Linked DNA regions of Homo sapiens: region 1 is linked to region 2. The links come from fine-mapping of genetic effects on gene expression. Tissue or cell type: whole blood. Region 2 holds a variant in brackets; the other region holds the start of a gene. All regions are shown on one strand. Distances are between the middles of the regions. Region 1 holds the start of HPSE (heparanase). Region 2 holds the start of COQ2 (coenzyme Q2, polyprenyltransferase).

Evidence for each region. PIP is the estimated chance that this variant, and not a neighbour inherited with it, causes the effect.
Region 1: HPSE starts here. The variant in region 2 is fine-mapped to the expression of HPSE in whole blood (TOPMed, PIP 0.92).

Annotation. Positions count from the first base shown.
Region 1 is chr4:83,333,273-83,336,179 of GRCh38, reverse strand. It overlaps HPSE (heparanase), which reads left to right and starts at 1,332. Exons shown (of 12, transcript NM_001098540.3): 1 at 1,332-1,624. The coding sequence starts at 1,398.
Region 2 is chr4:83,284,198-83,287,045 of GRCh38, reverse strand. COQ2 (coenzyme Q2, polyprenyltransferase) reads left to right here and starts at 2,248. Exons shown (of 7, transcript NM_001358921.2): 1 at 2,248-2,534. The coding sequence starts at 2,282. RefSeq lists enhancers at 2,116-2,410, 2,606-2,845 and a silencer at 2,216-2,545. The variant GTTT/T (reference allele first, on the strand shown) is at 1,788.

The DNA of each region.
Region 1 (2,907 bases), 49 kb before region 2:
TCTTACTAAGCACCAACATGATCACATGCCTGAGCTATGGCTAGCATAGCGTGTGAGACAAACTTAATCTCTGTTTTGGTGGAGCATATAATCTAGTAGATGAAGCCAATGTTGAGCAACATCACAATACTAACAAATTGAGGATGCTACGAGAGTGTCTAACAAATTGAGGATGCTACGAGAGTGTCTAACAAATTGAGGATGCTATGAGAGTGTGTCATGGAGAGCTGCCTGGAGATTGAGAGAAAGCTTCCTTGAGGGAAGTTACATTTCAGCTGAAACACACTGCCATCTGCTCGAGGTTTTGTAACTGCATTCACATCCCGATTCTGACACTTCACATCCCGATTCTGACACTTCACCCAGTTACTGTCTCAGAGCTTGGGTCCGCATGTGTAAAACAAGGACAGTATGCACTTGGCAGGGTTGTGAGAAGGGAAGAGAACACAAGTAAAGCACCTGTATCAGGCATACAGTAGGCACTAAGCGTGCGATGCTTGCTATGATTATACATCAGTGTAAGCATCAAGGAAAAGCTGAAGAAAAGTCTGACCAACAGCGAAAGATAAATGCGCAGAGGAGAAATTTGGCAAAGGCTCCAAATTCAGGGGCAGTCCGTACTCTACACTTTGTATGGGGGCTTCAGGTCCTGAGTTCCAGACATTGGAGCAACTAACCCTTTAAGATTGCTAAATATTGTCTTAATGAGAAGTTGATAAAGAATTTTGGGTGGTTGATCTCTTTCCAGCTGCAGTTTAGCGTATGCTGAGGCCAGATTTTTTCAAGCAAAAGTAAAATACCTGAGAAACTGCCTGGCCAGAGGACAATCAGATTTTGGCTGGCTCAAGTGACAAGCAAGTGTTTATAAGCTAGATGGGAGAGGAAGGGATGAATACTCCATTGGAGGTTTTACTCGAGGGTCAGAGGGATACCCGGCGCCATCAGAATGGGATCTGGGAGTCGGAAACGCTGGGTTCCCACGAGAGCGCGCAGAACACGTGCGTCAGGAAGCCTGGTCCGGGATGCCCAGCGCTGCTCCCCGGGCGCTCCTCCCCGGGCGCTCCTCCCCAGGCCTCCCGGGCGCTTGGATCCCGGCCATCTCCGCACCCTTCAAGTGGGTGTGGGTGATTTCGTAAGTGAACGTGACCGCCACCGAGGGGAAAGCGAGCAAGGAAGTAGGAGAGAGCCGGGCAGGCGGGGCGGGGTTGGATTGGGAGCAGTGGGAGGGATGCAGAAGAGGAGTGGGAGGGATGGAGGGCGCAGTGGGAGGGGTGAGGAGGCGTAACGGGGCGGAGGAAAGGAGAAAAGGGCGCTGGGGCTCGGCGGGAGGAAGTGCTAGAGCTCTCGACTCTCCGCTGCGCGGCAGCTGGCGGGGGGAGCAGCCAGGTGAGCCCAAGATGCTGCTGCGCTCGAAGCCTGCGCTGCCGCCGCCGCTGATGCTGCTGCTCCTGGGGCCGCTGGGTCCCCTCTCCCCTGGCGCCCTGCCCCGACCTGCGCAAGCACAGGACGTCGTGGACCTGGACTTCTTCACCCAGGAGCCGCTGCACCTGGTGAGCCCCTCGTTCCTGTCCGTCACCATTGACGCCAACCTGGCCACGGACCCGCGGTTCCTCATCCTCCTGGGGTAAGCGCCAGCCTCCTGGTCCTGTCCCCTTTCCTGTCCTCCTGACACCTATGTCTGCCCCGCCAGCCGCTCTCCTTCTTTTGCGCGGAAACAACTTCACACCGGAACCTCCCCGCCTGTCTCTCCCCACCCCACTTCCCGCCTCTCATTCTCCCTCTCCCTCCCTTACTCTCAGACCCCAAACTGCTTTTTGGGGGGTATCATTTAAAAAATAGATTTAGGGGTTACAAGTGCAGTTCTGTTCCATGGGTATATTGCATTGTGGTGGCATCTGGGCTCTTAGTGTAACTGTCACCCGAATGTTGTACATTGTATCTAATAGGTAATTTCTCATCCCTCATCCCTCTCCCACCCTCCCACCTTTTGGAGTCTCCAGTGTCTACTATTCCACTAAGTCCATGTGTACACATTGTTTAGCGCCCACTCTAAATGAGCCTTTTTGTTTCATTCATTCTGTAAGTGTTGAATAGGCACCACCTAAGGTCAGGTATAAGTGGAAATTTGAAAAAGAAACTGCCCACTTGCCCCAGTACTTCCCTAGCCAAGAGGAGGGAAACCAGGCAGGTGCACCTGAAGGCCTGTGAGTGCTTGATTTGCTGTGCAGTGTAGGACAAGTAAGATTGTGCATAGCCTTCTGTATTTAAGACTGTGTTAGGAAGATTTCTCTTTCTTTTCTTTTCTTTTTCTTTTTTCTTTTCTTTTTTTTTTTTTAGGCAGATGAAAAGGGCGTCACAGAACAGGAATAAAAATCTAAATATTCAATAAATGAGACCTAGGAGACTACTGCAGTGACTTACAAAGTCCTAATAAAAAGATGTCTCTCCAAAATGGGGCTGCAAAATGTGGTGCTGCCTTATCAGCTCTAAGTTTTTTCCTTACCTGAGAAAGAAGGAACCTGATGCAGGTTCAGGGCTCCTGCCCCATGAATGCAGGCTGACTCCAAGATGGGGAGCTACAGGGACAATCCCAGGTCTTCTAGGCCTCTTATTTAGGCCCTGGGAGCCTCCAGAGATGGCCACATCTTGACCAGCCCAGATAGAGGGAAAGATCACCATTATCTCACCTCTGTGTCAAATACCTAGATGCTGTCCTCCCTGAGCCCACACTATAGTTGCCAGCGCTAATTTAATGGGTAGTGTACTGGTTAAGAGATGGACAGACCATCCTGGCTTGACTCTCAGCTCTGGCAAAGATGAGTGACTTGGTTTTTCCATATCTCTTGGCCACACCAACCTTGATTTCTTCAGCTGTAGAATGGAATTTCTCAAGCTTGCCTCAAGGAT
Region 2 (2,848 bases):
AATTAACCATTTCAGTTCCTGTGGGTAATAGGTTTAAAACAAAATGAGTTCCTGCCCAATCCAAAATGAGGAATTGGCGTTGTGTACATGTACCCTAAAACTTAAAGTATAATAATAATAAAATTTTAAAAAAAAAGAAAGTCACTTCAAAAAAAACAAAAAACAAAATGAGGAATCGGAGCCTTACAGGCCCTTTTAGAGAAAGCCTAGTCCCTTCCTTTTCTGAAGAGTTTGCAGCAGTTAAATGGCTTTCCCAAGGGCATACTGTGCCTTGGCATTAGTCTAGAGGAGACTCCTGAAAGTTAGGGCTCTACTCTATGTGACTGTTCTCTTGTCCTACAAATTAGCAGAGTGACATGTGGGTACCCATCTCAGTTTCCTGTGCACTTTAATTGGACCAAATATCTTAGGATTGAATCACCTCTGGGCAGGGTCAGCATCATGGGTACATGTGCAGTCACCCAGGGCCTACGCTAAGAAGGACCTTGTACTTGGTTTAATGTCCTGCTGTTGCCATCTTGAAATTCTTAATATATTTTTTTAAACAAAGAGTTTGGACCTATATTGGAAAGTCATGGATGCAATACATGACTGATATTACACCCTTTTCAGGTTTGAGTCAGATCTAAATCATCTCCAATCTAACAACTAGGAGTGTTACTAAATTGCCTGCTGGCCTTTATTCTTTGCAGGCAGGAGAAAGGCTAGGTACCCCCTGCCTCATTGCACCAAAGTGGCCAGGCATCCAACTTGCTGTACTTGAGCCATGCAAGAAGTCACAGAATCATTGTACATGTTTTACAGAAAGGAGCCTAAAGACTAAGTCAACTTCCTAGAATATTAAAATCCAGATGAGTGACTTGCCTAGGGTTACTCAGTGAGAGGTTAAATGAGTTGATACATGTAAAGTGCCTGGCACACAGCGATATACAGAGTTGCTTATGAATAAGAGTACTGACCATCTGAGGCAGGAGGATCTCTTTAGCCCAGCTGTTCAAGACCAACCTGGGCAATATAGTGAGACCTCCTCTCTATGAAAAATTAAAAATTAGCCAGCCACGGTGGCTCGTGTCTGTGGTCCCAGATATTTAGAATGCTGAGATGGGAGGATCGATTGAGCCCAAGAGGTGGAGGCTGCAGTGAGCCATGATCCCTCCACTGGTCTCCAGCCTGGATGACAGAGCAAGACTCTGCTGACCAGACTTTTCAGCTTCAGGTTCTTAGCATCACACATGCTGGTTGTCTACTGATTACAAAAACTCCTTTGAAGGGCTGTCAAATTTAAAATTTTCACTTGTGTAATGAACATCCCTTAACCCTGAATGCGATTTTAATTTACAGTCTTGTATGTGGCCACTTGGTGCCCTTTTTTTTTTTTATGGCTAAACGTGTACGCAAATTCTTCTTTTGGATTCAGTAGGTTTTTCAAAGCTTTTTTTTTTTTTTCCTGGTACAACTGTTCCATATGAATAAACACTATCCTTTTCATTTTATGGAGAAAGCTGATAATAGGGTTAAATTATAGGGGGCCATTGTTTTGAACTAAGTTCCTGCACTAGGTCCCAACAGATCAGACTAAGAATCAAGAGTCACCCATGCTAAAGTTCCAAGTCACCAAACTAAAACTAAGTTGTATCTGACATTCTGAGAAGTCAGGAAAGAGAGACAACAGCCAATTTTCCAACCAGGCCATTTCAAAATGCAATCGTCATGACAATTAAGTTTCCTGTTTTAGTCCTTAACCTGGTGTAACCTAATGTTAACCAATCCGTTATTTCTCTGTTGTT[GTTT/T]CCCTGTCCCCGCCTCGCAATGAAAGTAATTTGAAGTGACCAATCCGCTTTTTGTTCTCTGCTTCTGCTTTCTTCAGCCCTTTTTCTGTCTATAAAGCCAACTTCCTCCGCTCGACTCTTTGGAACACTTATTCTATTTTACAGAATAAGGTGTTGCCCGATTCTATTTTTTGTTTGTTTCCTCAGAGACCCCGTTCTGAGTGTTGCCCGATAATGGAACCACAAAGTCAATCAAGATCGAGTTGTAAAAAATTACAACTAAATTTATTGTAATTTTTTTGCCTTTTGCCAATAGAAATCCCTTTTTCATTAAGTATTCCTCCCTAGAGTAAGCGACCACGATGACCCCAATTTCACAAGTAAGGATGAGGAAAGGTTCTGCCCACACCGCCGCCCAGCCTGGCAGACTAGGATTGCATCCTGCGGGTGCCACTGCGCATGCCTGCCGGGGAATGACGTCAATCCGAGCTCGTCCCGGCCTCACCAGCGCCATGCTGGGCTCGCGAGCCGCGGGGTTCGCGCGGGGCCTGCGGGCTGTGGCACTGGCGTGGCTGCCGGGCTGGCGGGGCCGCTCCTTCGCCCTGGCGCGTGCGGCAGGCGCGCCCCACGGTGGTGACTTGCAGCCCCCCGCCTGTCCCGAGCCGCGCGGGCGCCAGCTCAGTTTGTCCGCGGCGGCGGTGGTGGACTCTGCGCCCCGCCCCCTGCAGCCGTACTTGCGCCTCATGCGGTTGGACAAGCCCATTGGTGAGTGCGGGCGGGCGGGCAGCCCGGGAATTTGCAAGTAGCAGCCTCCGAGTCGGCTCCGCGGAGCTGTCCGCGGCGGCCGGCCGGGGCGTGATGGAAATGAGAACCTGAAAGCTTGGGCTTGGCTGCCGGGTGCCGTGCGCCCTGGGGCGAATCACCTCGGGACACTTTGAAATGAGAGCCTGAAAGCTTGAGCTTGGCTGCCGGCTGCCGTGCGCCCTGGGGCGAGTCACCTCAGGACACGCAGTCGGGACAGTCTCCTAAAGGACCCGCCAGTTTCACGTCTGTCTGCATCCTGAGCACCTGAAGCGGGC